Regions from separate parts of the Homo sapiens genome. Here region 2 is linked to region 1. A link means that fine-mapping ties the variant in region 1 to the expression of a gene that starts in the linked region. Tissue or cell type: whole blood. Region 1 holds a variant in brackets; the other region holds the start of a gene. All regions are shown on one strand. Distances are between the middles of the regions.

Region 1 (8,100 bases):
TTTTTTTTTTTTCCTTTTTGGGGGAACAGGGTCTCACTGTGGCCCAGGCTGGAGCACAGTGGTGTGATCACAGCTCACTGCAACCTCTGCCTCCCAGGTTCAAACAGTTCTTCTGCCTCAGCCTCCCGGGTAGCTGGGATTACAGGTGTGCACCACCTGGCTAATTTTTTTTATTTTTAGTAGAAACAGGCCTTTGCCATGTTGGCCAGACTGGTCTTGAATTCCAGTCCTCAAGAGATCTACCCACCTGGGTCTCCCAAAGTGCGAGTATTACAGGTGTGAGCCACCAGGCCCAGCCATGTTTTCTTATCATTAATAACTGATACGAGGCAGAGGAAAGATTTTTTTTCAGTATGTTATTTATAGAAACTGTATAGTGCATATAGTATTTTGAATATGTGATTTTCCTTTATTACTATAAACACTGTCTTAAAACTGTATTTAATGTCTTTTTTCCTCATTCTTGCCCAGGCTGGAGTGCAGTGACACAATCATAGCTCACTTCAGCCTCTCAACTCCTGGGCTCAGGCGATCCTCCTACCTAAGCCTCCCAAGTAGCTGGGACTACAGGCTCATGCCACCATGCCTAGCTAATTTTTGTATTTTTTTGGTGTCTATAGAGACAAGGTCTTTCCACGTTCCCAGGGCTGGTCTCAAACTCCTGGCCTTAAGCAGTCCTCCTGCCTTGGACTCCCAAAATGCTGGGACTACAGGCGTGAGCATCGATGTCCAGCCATGTCATCCCTTTTATTTTATTTATTTATAAGATGGAGTGTCACTCTGTCTCCCAGGCTGGAGTGCAGTGGCTCGATCTTGGTTCACTGCAACCTCTTCCGCCTCCTAGGTTCAAGCAATTCTCCTGTCTCAGCCTCCTGATTAGCTGGGATTACAGGCATGTACTACCATGCCTGGTTAATTTTTGTATTTTTAGTACAGATGGGGTTTTGCCATGTTGGCCAGCTGGTCTCCAACTCCTGACCTCAGGTGGTCTGCCCACCCCGGCCTGCCAAAGTGCAAGGATTACAGGCGTGAGCCACAGTGCCGGACCTAATTTTGTTTCAGACAGCGTCTCGCTCTGTCACCCAGACTGGAGTGCAGTGGCGCCAAACCTCCACCTCCCCAGTTCAAGCAATTCTGCCTCAGCCTCCCGAGTAGGCTGGGATTAGAAGCATGCATCACCACACCCGGCTAATTTTTGTATTTTCAGTAGAGACGAGGTTTCACCATGTTAGCCAGGCTGGTCTCGAACTCCTGATCTCAAGTAATCCGCCCACCTTGGTCTCCCAAAATGCTGGGATTATAGGTGTGAGCCACCTTGCCCTGCCTTCCCTTTTAAAGAGAAGGTTTAAATGTGATTTCTAAGAGCTTTCCCTAAATTATTACCATTTTTTTTTTTTTTTGAGACAGAGTCTTGCTCAGTTGCCCAGGCTGGACTGCAGTGGTGCAATCTTGGCTCACTGTAACCTCTGCCTCCCGGATTCAAGGGATTCTTGTGCCTCAGCCTCTCAAGTAGCTGGGATTACAGGCCTGTACCATCACACCTGGCTAATTTTTGTATTTTTAGTAGAGACAGACTTTCACCATGTTGCCCAGGCTGGTCTGGAACTCCTGGCCTCAAGTGATCCACGTGCCTCAGATTCCCAAAGTGCTGGGATTACAAGCACTTTGTGTGAGCCACTGCACCCGGCCTGTTACCGTTTCTTAACTGTTTTCTTATCCTTACATTTTTGTCGTTTTTACTAATTGAAGAAAATGAAGATTCTTAAATATATTTTGCTGTAACAGAAGTATATATGTGTACATCCTTTTTTTTTTTTTTTTTGATGGAGTCTCACTCTGTTGCCCAGGCTGGAGTGCAGTGGCGCGGTCTCAGCTCACTGCAACCTCTGCCTCCCAGATTCAAGCGATTCTCCTGCCTCAGCCTCTGGAGTAGCTGGCATTACAGGCACCTGCCACCACACCTAGCTAATTTTTTTGTATTTTTAGTAGAGACAGGGTTTTACAATGTTGGCCAGGCCGGTCTCCAACTCCTGACCTGAGGTGATCTGCCCACCTTGGCCTTCCATAGTGCTGGGATTACAGGCATGACCCACCACACCCAGCTGTGCATCCTTATCTTTAAAAAAATTTACAAAATAATAAAATTGGGGGTTTAGAGTACTGAACTCATAGGAATTAACTTTATTTCTGTCTCTCAGGAATATATAATTTCATTTTTCATTGTCATAGTGCTAAAATCTTTTCCGTTCCTGTTCCCCAAAATGTCTTAAAGTGTATATGATTACATAATTTACATATTTTTGGATATACCTTTATTAAAAATACAGGTTGTTTTGGAATTGTTTGGTATTTTAGTATTTTTGAGCCCTTTGGCATTCATCAGAATGTGTTTGACTATATTTTTCTATACTTGCTTTTAAAAGTCATTTAGCATCCTTTCACTAGGTTATAGAAACATTAGTAGTCATTAATTACATATGATAGTGTACTAATTCAGTGATTATATATATTTTTTTCTAAATAGGGTTATTGGGGCTGTGCCATCGGCAAAGCCAGGCAAGCTGCAAAGACGGAAATAGAGAAGCTTCAGGTAATAATTAATGCTTGAATTTTTACTATGTCGTCATCCTAATGCAGTGAAATTTTATCACCACAGACATTTCAGTCTAAGGCAGGGATGTCCAATCATTTGGCTTCCCTGGGCCACACATAAAATACACCAACACTAATGATAGCTGATGAGCTTAAAAAAAAATCTCATCATGTGTTAAGAAAGTTTACGAATTTGTGTTTGGCCCCATGTGGCCTGTGGCTGGGGAAGCTCGGTGTAAGGATATAGTGTGGTTTGATGTTGAGAGTTTATGAAGCTGCTAAGTCACTGAATGGGAAAGCTGGTAACATATTATCTGTAGAGTTGTGTTATACATCCCTTTATAGATTCTGAATAACTGCTATAAAGCCTCAATCTAGAAAAACACAACTTTTGATATGATTTCACAAAATCCTTGAAACCTATTTATGAATCTCTGTGAGCTCTAGTTTGAAAATTTTGTTTAAAATTTTGAGTTAATAAAAAGTTATATTTTTCCTATATTCTTTCTTTGGAACACAGCTTTTATGTCTGGCTGTGCTCCACCGGTTCTCTTAGCTTTGCTCCTAGCCAGGTAAGGCATAAAGCCTACACTCTTACGACTACCCACTTTTTCTTTCACAAAATTCAGCTATTAGTGTGAAAAAGTTTTCTTAAAAACTTGGTTTTCCTTTTAGCCATGCGTTGATCAACTTAAAGACTTCATGGATACTGTTTCAATATTATTGATTACCTGTCAGAAACTTGCCTAAAAAGCAGGCATACCATTTATCAGTGTTTTGGTAAACTGAAGTGAGATACAATTTCACATACATTTAATGTTAATGCTGTACTAGAACCCTGCTCAACTAATTACTCATTCAACTTATTTAAGACCAGCTTCTAGAAAATACTTATTAGTGCTTGGCATTTATACAATGCTAAGTTCTAGAACCCCCTATAAAACCTAATTTGTTTCGTATTTTAGTAAAGCTGACAAAAGGATCTTAGAGGTCATTTAGCCCAAGCTCAACTGCAGATTAAACACACTGCATAGGACCACAGAATCAGCTGGTTCTGAACAGTATCCAGACCTTATGAGTCTTAGACCTATGTTCTTTTCCATTGCACACTTACTAGTATGATGCTAGGTTCCTATCTTCTACTCTTTTCCTTTTGTTTTCATCTCTCCATACTATTATATGGAAATTTGAAAATTAGAATATTTATGTCAGTTGAGGGGGATTACCCCTGTAATCCTACCAGTTTGGTAGGCCAAGTTGGGAGGACTGCTTGAGCCCAGTAGTTCCAAGACCAGGCTGGGCAAAAGAGTAAGACCCTATCTCCCAAAACAAAATGTTAGCGAGGTGAGGTGGTGCGTGCCTGTAGTCCCAGCTACTTGGGAGGCTGAGGCAGGAGGACTGTTTGAGCCCCAGCCAGGAGTTGGGGGCTACAGTGAGCTATGATCACGCCACTGCACTCCAGCCAGGGCAACAGAGCGACACCTTATCTCAAAAAAATAAAGGAAATTAGAATATTTAGAGCAGTTACTATCTGTCTTTCTGTAGTTAAATCCTAGCAAGGAATGGGAAAAACAATAAATCCCAGAGAAAAATCAAGAAAAAAAAATCACTTTAATTGAGGAACACTTTCAGTTTGTGACAAAATTATGCTGTGAATCAGGTGTTGCAAATTATGGCCCACTGCCTGCTTTTGTGTAAGTTTTATTGGAACACAGCTACATTCAGTCCATGGCTGCTTTTAGAATACAACAGTAGACTTTAACATTTGGAACAGGGAACAGAAACCAGAGCCATACAGCTAATAAACTTGAAAATATTTACAAGTTGATGCTTTACAAAATCCATCTGCTGACCCCTGCTCTGTACCATTGTTCTCTTCTGATGGTCTGTTTACTAAAAAATAAAAACTTCACAAACATGTAAAAAATAGATTTGCCATTTAAAATGTGCTTTTCAAGTTTGACTTTTTAGGATGCAATTAATTCACTAAATACAGAACTTAACTAAGGACAAAAATTTAAAGATCAGCATTCTTTCCCTTCCCATCACGCTCAACTTAACATGAAGAACTGTAAACATCCTAAGCTTACAACAAACCTATCTAGTTAGACTTCAGTTAACCACTTACACATCCCCCTCCCCCATGAACTATTTGGAAAAAGCTGCAGGCGTAATATTGGATCCCTAAATACTTTATTCTCCTTATACCATTATCAGACCCAAGTATCATCTAATAGTCCATAATCAAACTGCCTAA[G/A]CAGTTTCTACACTGTCTTTTTAACTATTTCAAACTATCAAGGTTCGCATTTTCTTCCTTAGAACTTTTAGTCTTTTTCTTCCCCAAAATATTTGAGTCCATGCCAGTTGCCTTTAGTTGTACCCAAATAATGGTTTGTCTATTTCCTAAAAGTAGTACTCTTAAATTTAAATTTAGTGTTATTTTTGTTGTCATTGTTCCTTCTTCCTCATGTGGTTGTGCAGGCAGAGCTTGAGCATCCAGATTTCAAAATTAAAAAATAAAAGATAATCTAGTTTAATATATAGTAGTTGAATCACCTTAAGTCTAGACTGCTGTATGAGCACCCATTATCTTTCACTATATTCCATCATCCCCCAACATATCCACAGTAGATGAAGGGCAGTTTGCTCAAACATTGTTTTGATCCTGTCATGTCTGTTCAGAAATGCCTGTCTATTCAGAAACCCACGTCTAATAACAAAATCTTGGACTGGTTACTATCAAAACCCAACAACATACAGACTCCTCAGCTAGGCCCTAGGGATATTTTTCTACCTTGATTTCCAAATGTTCATTGAAAGAATGCTTAATTCTAATTTGGAAAAAAGTTTTTGGCTTCCCACTTCTGCTTTACACGTTCATCTTTCTTGAAATCAAATCCAATCCAATCTATATTCTAAGAACCTGCTCAAATCTTGGTTCTTCAAAGCTTTCCCTGGTATTTTGCATTTTTGCTTTGAATAGTTCCACGAAGGATAACTTCTTACTCCTTCCTTCATCTTTCTGTATCTTGCATATAGTAAATATTAATGACTTGTTTGCATTTTGTTATCCTAACTTGGCTATAAAGAAAATCAGATGTCTTCACCAGTCGTTCAAACTTCAGGTCTGCCTACAGATTCATAGATGGCTGTGGATTTTTATAATTTTGTCACAAAGTTAGTGGTAACTACAGGTTATCTCAGAATATCTTTTTTGGCGTATAAATTTTTTTCTTTTCCTTTTTTAGACAGTCTCTCTCTCTGTCGCCCAGGCTAGAGTGCAGTGGCGTGATCCCGGCTCACTACAACCTCTGCCTCCTGGGTTCAAGAGATTCTTAGGCCTCAGCCTCCCGAGTAGCTAGGGTTACAGGCGCGCACCACCTCCATGCCCAGCTCTTTTGTATTTTTAAGTAGAGACAGGGTTTCACCATGTTGGTCAGGCTGGTCTCGAACTTCTGACTTCAGGCAATCCGGCCGCCTCGGCCTCCCAAAGTGCTGGGATTACAGGCACAAGCCACTGCACCCAGCCTGGAGTATAAATTTCAAAACATTAAAATATGAATCAGGAAACTTCGATTCTGGTCTTTTTCAGACTTTAGGTTATTTTCCTTGGTTTTATATCTGAGTATAAAAGTGAAAATAGTTATTACACAAGTGGAAAATGTTCTTCTGATGAACAGTATACATTTTATTTTCTATAGATGAAAGAAATGACCTGCCGTGATATCGTTAAAGAAGTTGCAAAAATGTAAGTTGAAATTTTTCTTACCATCCACAAAAATATTTCATTTGACCTTTGCATATATATATTACATTAATCCTAAGAAGCTGTTTTCCTGTAAAATAACTTAGTGTATAATTTTTAGAAGGTAAATTTAACATTCTAAGAAGCCTCACGAAGGAAGAAAATGTTTTTAAGCAATATTTTTTAGTAGTAATGAATAGGATGGGAAAAATAGCTTGACAAAATAAACTCCTGTTACAGGTTAAGGACATATACCATTAGGGTCTTAATTTGTTAGCTCCCAACTTCTCAAATCTCTTAAGTCCTAATAATAGTAATCTTAAGATTGCCTCTATTGTAAGAATGCTTACAAACTTTATAGGTTACAACTAATTATTTCAATACATGATCCATGAAGCTGGCTCATTTATATAATCTGCTATTTATTTGGGAAAGATATGTTTCACTTTTTCAGGTTTATTATAAAAGTTCCTATAACAAGGTAAGAAGAGCAGTATTACAAAACATTTCAACAACCAGCTTAAGAAACCCTGAATAGTTTATTACAGGTATATAAAGTAGAATACTATTAATATGTAACAGGTATTTGGACAGTAAACAATAAAAAAGTCAATTAACCTGGGTAGTGATGTTTCTAAAATTTTGTGATTCTCTAGATCAAAGAGTGTAGACATTTGGTATTACAAAAAGATTCCAACAAAATACGTTGTGTAGCCAGCTTTTTAGATTCAAAAGTTATGGATAATCGTAATTCATAACAACTCTAAGTATTCCACATTAGAACTACATAAACAAGGTCTAGTCAATCACCTGTCTGTATGGTAGTGTATCAGGTTTTACATCTAACAATACGTGGAAGAAAAAAATTCCAATGGGCTCTATTGTTTAATAAACATACTATTTACATCACACTCAGAGTCTCTTATTAACCGGTCCATCATTACTGCTACTGCCTTTACCCCTCTTGCCACCTCCTCCCCTCCGCCCTCCTAGTTTCAGTTGTGAAGCAAGCAGAAGCCATTCTATGATTGTCAGTTAATAATGGCAACACTAGGAACCAACATGCAGCAGAGCTGCTAAGAAAGGAAGTCAGATATCTTCCTTGAATTGTATAGTATGTTATCATGATATACTCTGTTTCCTTCACCGAACCAATCCTTTGAAGTCCTTCTGGAAATCAGTTCTTACCATCTTTTATATTTAGGTATAATGGTAGTCATCTGTTAAGTGTTCCATGTTAGGAAAGCCATCCCTTCATCATTTAAGAAAATGGAGCAGCATGTTATCTTTTACTTAGTTGTAGAAAATCAAGATCCTCTCATATTATAGCAAGGTTTTAGAAGACCCTCCAAAAAGTAAGGTATGTAACTCAGTGCATAGTATTAGATAAAGCTATACTCTGCTACTGTACTTAATTTGATACTTTTTTTTTTTTGAGATGGAGTCTCACTCTGTCGTCCAGACTGGAGGGCAGTGGCACGATCTTGGCTCACTGCAACCTCCGCCTCCCGTGTTCAAGCAATTCTCCTGCATCAGCCTCTCAAGTAGCTGGGATTACAGGCGCCCACCACCACACCTGGCTAATTTTTGTATTTTTAGTAGAGACAGGCTTTACCATCTTGGCCAGGCTGGTCTTGAACTCCTGACCTTGTGATCCACCCACCTTGGCCTCCCAAAGTGCTGGGATTACAGATGTGAACCACCGCACCTGGCCTCTTGATACTTTTTATGTTACTTTAATATGTTGCATGACAGTGCCTCCT
Region 2 (8,107 bases), 33 kb after region 1:
CGACGAACTCTTGGAAAGCATTTTCTGCATCCTGCTAGTTGTGGAAGTGTTTTCCCTGCAAAAAGGTGTCGCAATGCTTGAAGAAGTCGTAGTCAATGGAGAGAGGTCAGGTGAATATGGCGGATGAGGCAAAATGTCACAGCCCAATTTGTTCAACTTTTGAAGCATTGGTTGTGCAACATGTGGAAGGGCATTGTGAAGAATTGGGCCTCTTTCTGTTGACCAATGCTGACTGCAAGCGTTGCAGTTTTTGGTGCATCTCATCGATTTGCTGACCATACTTCTCAGATGTAATGGTTTCGCCAGGATTCAGAATGCTATAGTGGATCAGACCAGCAGCAGACCACAAAACAGTGACCATGACCTTTTTTTGGTGCAAGTTTGGCTTTGGTAAGTGCTTTGGAGAATCTTCTCAGTCCATCTACTGAGCTGGCCATCACCAGTTGTTGTATAAAATCCACTTTTTCTCGCACATCACAATCTGACCAAGAAATGGTTTGTTGTTGCAAAAAATAAGGGATAAGGACACTTCAAAACAATGACTTTTTTTTTCGGTCAGTTCATGAGGCACCCACTTATCGAGCTTTTTCACTTTTTAATTTGCTTCAAATGCTGAAGGACTGTAGAATGGTCCACATTGAGTTCTTCGGCAACATCTCAAGTAGCCTTAAGAGGATCAGCTTTGCTGATTGCTCTTAACCGGTAGTTATCAACTTCTGGCGACCAGCCACTACGCTCCTGATTTTCAAGACTTTCCTTCCCTTTGCAAAATTTCTTGAAACTGCCAGGCACAGCGGCTCAAGCCTGTAATCCCAGCACTTTGGGAGGCCAAGGCGGGCGGATCACGAGGTCAGGAGTTCGAGACCAGCCTGGGCCAAGATGGTGAAACTCCATCTCTACTAAAAATACAAAAATTAGCTGAGCATGGTGGTGCGTGCCTGTAATCCCAGCTACTGGGGAGGCTGAGGCAGAATGGCTTGAACCCAGGAGGCAGAGGTTGCAGTGAGCCAAGATCATGCCACTGCACTCTAGCCTGAAAGAGCAAGATTCCATCTCAAACAACAACAACAAAAAAACTTCTTGAATCACCACTGCACTGTAAGTTAACAGTTCCTGAACCATATGCATTGCTGATATGGTGTCTCTGTTGTTTTACAACCCATTTTTAACTCAAAAACGAAAACTGCTCGAATTTGCTTTTTTGTCTAACATCATTTTCATTGTCTAAAATACACATGAAGGCTGGGCACGTGGCTCATGCCCGTAATCCCACCACTTTACGAGGCCGAGGCAGGCAGATCATGAGGTCAGGAGATCGAGACCACCATGGCTAACATGGTGAAGCCCCTTGGCTCTATTAAAAATACAAAAAATTAGCTGGTGTGGTGGCACGCGCCTGTAGTCCCAGCTACTCGGGAGGCTGAGGCAGAAGAATTGCTTGAACCTGGGAGGCAGAGGTTGTAGTGAGCCGAGATGGTGCCACTGACTTCAGCCTGGCGACAGAGCGTGACTCTGTCTCAAAAATAAAATAAAATAAACATGAAATAAACAGAGAGTAATAAGTCATTACCAAAAGAACAAAGCGAGAAATGCCCATTAAAATGATGTATAACATAACCACATTTATTTAACAACGTAGTCCAACATCAAATGGCAAATTCCAATAATGCAAAAACCACGATTACTTTTGCAACGACCTTCTTAGACACAATATTTTGCAAAACATGTACAAGGATATTCACTGACATATTACTGCCATTATAGAAAAATAAACACGTTACATAAATTATGATATATTTATCCCACAAAACACTATGAAGACATAAAAGATGCTTTACGATAAGATATTTCCAATATTCCCAATGTTTTCTATAAAGAATAGACGGTAATGAACAACACTAGAATATTTGGTAAAACAAAACCAACAAAAAAGACAAAGCCTTTTGTATAATATATAACTATAGTGTAAACCGTAACTACCTTTTGGAGGAGGGAAGACATTTTTGTATTCTTCTTTGGGCTTTTTAATAATTTCCAAATGTCCATGCATTATTTGGATTCAATAATAACAGTTTAAACTTTGATCGTAGAATTATGGATGCTTACCCCCTAGAAAATTCAGTAATATATTGTTTTATAAGGTCTTTTAAAAAACTGCTTCACTCCTACGAGATTGCGCCACTGCACTCCAGCCTCGATGACAGAGAGAGACTCTGTCTCCAAAAAAAAAAAAAAAAAAAAAAAAAAAGCCTCACTCCTAAACACTCCCATTTACAAGATCTTTTCTATATAAGAACTTTTTAAATAGGCGGGTGGGGGGGAGGAAATCACAAAAATACGCATAATGTTTTATAACAAAAACATGAGGTATATCAAAGTCCAGAAATGAGAACCACGTAAATGGGTAAACAAGTCCATAAGGATGTCCTAATTTTGGGATTTCATTCTAAAATATTACACTAGAAAGCTAATTATACAGACTCATTTGAATCTGACCAAACAAAACATCTTTTAACTACCCTTCCTCCCATTCTGGTATTTCTTTACTAATCCATAGAAAGTTTTTCCAGGTAGTCCCCCGCAATTCTAAGGATTTTTAGACTTTATGACTCACCTCAGTAATCACTGAGATGTTCTGTTTTCTTCAGCACAACTGCCAAAAAACCCAGTAATTGTTAAGTCACACAATCATTTTCTAGTTATGGGCGCCACCAATATAGCAGTAGGGTTTAAAACAGAGGTATTGAGGGTAACTATTAGGATCTATCCAGTGTGACTAGGTCACTCACTAGAAATGCCAACATGCATTTCACGTTTTTATGAATACTTTTGAGCAAAATTACTGTTACGAATAAAAAACTGATTCTGCTCGGCTGTTTTCTTACTGAGAAAATTTAGTCCACGTGGATTACTGACGATATGTCACATTTTAAAAATTACTCCATTCTATAAAACTAGTCAATTTTATACTCCAATTCCGCTATTTAAAAATGTGTGTTTCGTTTAACAGAATATAAGATGTTAACAGAAAAAGATCAACGTCTATCTTATCGGGGACGTCCTTTTGTCTAAGATGTTTTCAGTCCCTGCAAAACCACTGTTTGCTTTCAAAAAGTAGCATAAGCCTCGTGCAGAGTGACAGACCCTTGTCTAAGGTCACAGAAGAAGCGTCTGCGCTGGCAAGTAAATTCCTCAGCATCCAGAAAGCCAGCGCTTTCTCCAGTTTCCTCATAGCTTTATCCCGTGAGGAGCACGCGGAAACCTCTACCCATGCAGGATGTTTCTAAGAACCACTTCTTCCCTGTCTTAACTAAGAAGGCTCCCACAGCTGGTGCCAATCAGGTGGAGAACATGGCAAGTCCCCGAAATGCACTTCCAAAGACAGGAAAGATTGCAGTGGGACAGAACCCAGAAAATCTCTCACATTCTCGAAAACCCGAAAGAGAACCTCCAAGAAAGACGTTTGCCTCTCCTCCACCTCTTTATCTCGGCGGGAGAGGAAGCCTCGCCCCCATTCATCCCGCCCCTTCTCCCCACCCCGCCGCAGGGAGAAGTTTACCATGGCTGCCTGCGGCCCCTTCACTTCCGGTGCCGGTGCCGCTAGGGCTGCGCCATCCCCCCAGTCAATCGGACAACCATAGCCTCCAACTGACCTTTCTGACAGCTCTGAGACTCCTCCGGCCACGACTAGGTGCTGTCCTGGAGGAAACGGTGGAGGACGGCCGCACAAAAACCAATCTACCTGATGAAAACTCCGTTCCCTTCTCGCCAGAAACATAAAATGCGATGGAGCTACGGCCACCGCTGCCGAGACAAAATGGCGCCGACAAGCTGGTTTAGCGCAAGCGCCTTGGACAGACCCTGCCCCGCCCCCGTGCAAGCCCCTGGCTGCAATTCTGGGTTCCGTTTCCATGGGACACTCCGCCGCCAATCCTCGTGTCGAACTGCTCTTCCTGACCCCTCAATTCACCAATCAGTGCCCAGTCAAGCACATCCGGAGTCGTCTCTACCAATCATTTCTCAGGACTTGCTTACTCAATAACCAACTCTCCAATAAAGTTGGTTTTCGGAAAAAGCCAATCATAAGTGGAAGATGTCCTACCTGCTGTTTTTCTCACCAATCCATGAAGTTTCACAGCTACATCCAATGAGGACGGCAGGTAGCGAGGTCCTATCCGAAGCTCTTCGGCGTCATGAGCAGCCAATAGGAGTTCGTGTAGAAGCGAGTCTGCTCAACAGCTTGTTATTTGGTGGATTGTGGCAGTAAATCGGGGCGAGTGGGGAACCCGGCGCAGGAACTGCAGCCGCGGCTGGGAGTGGTGCTGCCCGGACGGGGGCCCACGGAGGTCAGAGGGGAGGAGGACTCTGGAGCTGACAGCGCGCACTTCACCCGCAGTTGGTAGGTGGGGAGAGGGGAATCCGGGGATACTGAATGGACGAAGTGGCAGTAGCAGCAGCTGCTGCTGCCCGAGGTCCCGGTGCAGTTGGAAGCTTTGGAGGTGGGGAGAGGGATGCTAGGCAAGTGGCACGGCGAGCGCAAGGGAAGGGGCCAGCCATTGACCAGCGGCAGCAACTGCAGGAACCGCCGCCGCAGTTGCAGCCGCCTCCTCGTCCGCTTCCTCGGGTTCCCGGGAAAATGGCTGTGGGGCTGGCCGCGCCGCTAAGTTTGCTTCCGCGCGGTGAAGAGCGGGCTGCTTGGGGGAGCCGTCCCCCAACTCCGCGGCGCGTCCACCTCTGCGGAGTCCGTGGCAGGACTCGAGGGGCTACGAGCTGATACCTCTCTGGGCTGTACAAAAAGTTGAGGCGGGCGCTGGGAGGAGGCAGCGGCTGCTGCGGTGCGGCTCCCCTCCCCTCCCACACCCTGTCCGGGCCACCTCCCCTCCTCCTCCCCTCCGCCCCCCGCCCCCTCCCCCACGCGGGTCCCCCGGGGCTCTGGCGGCTCCCGGCTGAAGGCCGCGGCCCCTGCCCCTTTGGGTGAAGGAGCGCTTCTCCTTTCTGACATGGTGCAGAGCGAAGGAAGGAGAGCAATGGCGCCGTGACACTCCGCTGCCGCCACCGCGGGCCCGGGGCGGGCCGAGGGGGCCGAGCGGCGGAGGCGGGGCGCGGGCCGAAGTCGGGGTATCCGGGGGACCGCGGAGCGGAGGCTCGGCGGTCGTCTCCGCGGGGGACCTGGGGAAGCCCGAAGGGAGCTCTGGCCTTTTCCGGAGCTATCTGTCCTGGAGCTCCGAGTTGAGCATTCCGGGTCAAAGTGGCCAGCGAGGCGGGGGCGCGGTGGGCCGCTGGCGAGCTCCGGGGCGGAACGGGCTGCCCTTTGGCGCTCGTGGGGTTCTCGCTGCCCCCTCAGCTCCTGCGTCCTGGCTGCCCTCGTAAGGGGTCTTGTCCCTTGGCTGGTGAGGATTCTGCCCCTCCCCGCTGGCGTTTGTTTACTTTCTTTCCCTTGGTCGCTCCCCGCAGTTGACTGATTATGTCTGTGCCTGTCTTTCCCCCTCCCCATAGTTCTAGCGACTGCGAAGATAGCTCGCTGAGCTGGAACCCCACAGATCACCAACAAAAATGAAGGTAAGTGGAGTCAACTCTGCCCCGATCCTCGCGCCCTGAACACTGCCAATCCTAAGGCTAGTGCCGTGGAATGTCATTTGTTTTGCTACTCAAAATTGATGTTCCTACTGATCAGCAGTTTCGGCATAGGAGGATGTGTTGAATGGGTGAAAAATGATCTGTGTGTCTAAATGCGGAGTTTAGGCCCTCTCTGTAGCAGTACTTTGGAAAGGCTGGTGCAGCCTTTCAATTGTTGTCCATTCGGATAGTATTTTTAAACACTTCCTGTGTTGGCAGCAACCTTTGCAGAAGTAAAGCTTTTGTCCTGCTTTGGTTCTTTGGGGGATTTTTTGTAAATTTTTTTTCTTCCCGTGTGCCAATGCGATTTTCTAAAAGAAAGAATACGTGGATTAAGTAATGAAGGTATCATTTCTTCTGTGTGTAAAATGAACTTATGTGGCTAAAATATTTGAAGTTGAAGTATAATAATAGTTTTAGTTAAATCTTTCCAATAAGTATTTTAAAACATATACTAAAAAGATACATATTCTACTGAGGATGACTGCAAATATCAGTATGTGGATGGTTAAAGGGAAAGGATCTCATATAGCGTTCTTGAATGCTGTGGCCATTGAATGTTTCAGGTCAGATTTTTGTTTGCCAAAAGCATTCCTATTCAATTTGTATTTTTTGTAAATGCACTTACTTTAAAAGGTACCCAATTCCTGTCTTATTTACTGTTTCAGCATATTAAGCTCTGAAATATAGCATTTTCCCAAACTTTCTCGTGGTTTTCTATTTTCTCGAAGTAAATGACATATTTAACCTTCTTTAATATTACTTGGGAAAACTTATTAGAAAACAAAAAATCATTTTCTACTTCAAAACGTATCTCCAAAGTGTACACTGTTAACTTTGCACTTAACAATGTTAAGTTGAACTTGTATGGATACACTTTAACTTCCGGAAAAAAAAAAAAAAGGTAAAATGACAGATTGAGATAGCAATCATCCTGTTACTGTAAAAATTAAAATGAGTGGTAGAGTGACATTTCTTACATCTTTCTATGTATCATTCTGGTCGTGTCCATTTGCTGAAAGTAGATGTTTCTTAGTAACGCTTATTTTTTTATACTAAGAAGATTAGTGTGGTAAACTAGGTATACCTACAAGTCTGGAGCCATCAGTTCATATCTGCATTCATCGGCTGAATTCAGACTTAAAACCTTTCAAGTGCAGCTTTTAGCAAATGAATTTTCCAAATGATACTTTCCTTATGAAAAGATGTTACCTTTATGTGGCTATGTCAATAAACAATTATGTATTGTTAGTGTTAATATTAGTAGCAATATTTCTTTTAATTTGAAAAATTTCAGGAAGCTATAAATGAATAACTTAGTTTTATGATATGTGTAATATGAAATATTTTTTCTGTTTTTTTCTTATCTTTCTGCTTATATAATAGTAGAATTTTTGAAAAATTTTGTATCGAGACAAAACATTATTAATCACTGATAATTTTGAATTACAACTTTAAAACATTTTATCATATCAGGACATCAGTCTATAAAATGAAAGGTTGCTAATCAAGTATTTAGGGTATTTTTCAAATTTTCAATGATATTAATAAGCAAGTCATTTTAATATTCTTAATGCTTCAAACACAACCTTTTAATGAGACTTGAGGTTGGAGTAGGGAGGCATAGTAATGACATTCACAGTTTTATGTTCCTTTCACCAGGCGGCAGATGAGCCTGCCTACCTGACAGTGGGAACCGATGTCAGTGCCAAGTACCGAGGTGCCTTCTGTGAGGCAAAGATTAAGACTGTGAAAAGGCTGGTGAAAGTTAAGGTAATATTTGTTTTTATGCAATAGTTTTATTAACTCTAGATTGAAGAAATTTGGGGAGAGAGAGACTGCAAATCAGCATTTTATTGAGTCATTATATGAAAACCCTTTATATACCAAACTTAAAGGAAAAGCACATCAAAAATAAAGAAATAAAAAACTCAAAAGGAGAAATTATTCCAAAATGCTACCATCAAAATACCATGCTCATGATATTTCCTGTCATTTGGCTCTTAACTATTTGTGGTAGCATACTTGGACTGTAATCTATTTTCTCCCCTCATTTAATGTTCAGGTAGAGACAATTTTAGTGTTTAGGACAATACAAATACAACAGGAATTATGTTTTCAAGACAGTGTAAAAAAGCATTTAAAAAGTTTATTTTGTGACTGGGCGTAGTGTCTCATGCCTGTAATCCAAGCACTTTGGGAGGCCGAAGTGGGCAGATCACTTGAGGCCAGGAGTTCAAGAGCAGCCTGGCCAACGTGGCGAAACCCTGTCTCTACTAAAATTGCAAAAATTAGACCCGGCGCGGTGACTCACGCCTGTAATCCCAGCACTTTGGGAGGCTGAGGTGGGTGGATCACCTGAGGTCAGGAGTTCGAGACCAGCCTGACCAACATGGTGAAATCCTGTCTCTACTAAAAATACAAAAATTAGCTGGGTGTGGTGGCAGGCACCTGTAATCCCAGCTGCTCAGGAGGCTGAGGCAGGAGAATT

Evidence for each region. PIP is the estimated chance that this variant, and not a neighbour inherited with it, causes the effect.
Region 2: PSMA3-AS1 starts here. The variant in region 1 is fine-mapped to the expression of PSMA3-AS1 in whole blood (TOPMed, PIP above 0.99).

What each region holds. Positions count from the first base shown.
Region 1 is chr14:58,261,181-58,269,280 of GRCh38, forward strand. PSMA3 (proteasome 20S subunit alpha 3) reads left to right here. Exons shown (of 11, transcript NM_002788.4): 7 at 2,525-2,590; 8 at 6,294-6,340. It overlaps PSMA3-AS1 (PSMA3 antisense RNA 1), which reads right to left. Exons shown (of 4, transcript NR_029435.1): 4 at 4,185-6,213. Among named protein-coding and RNA genes, the nearest start is that of PSMA3, 20 kb to the left of the region's middle. The variant G/A (reference allele first, on the strand shown) is at 4,850.
Region 2 is chr14:58,294,302-58,302,408 of GRCh38, forward strand. PSMA3-AS1 (PSMA3 antisense RNA 1) reads right to left here and starts at 3,836. Exons shown (of 4, transcript NR_029435.1): 1 at 3,654-3,836. It overlaps ARID4A (AT-rich interaction domain 4A), which reads left to right and starts at 4,254. Exons shown (of 24, transcript NM_002892.4): 1 at 4,254-4,399; 2 at 5,497-5,559; 3 at 7,279-7,389. The coding sequence starts at 5,554. RefSeq lists enhancers at 3,484-4,207, 3,504-3,923, 3,944-3,993, 4,104-4,193 and a silencer at 4,824-5,343.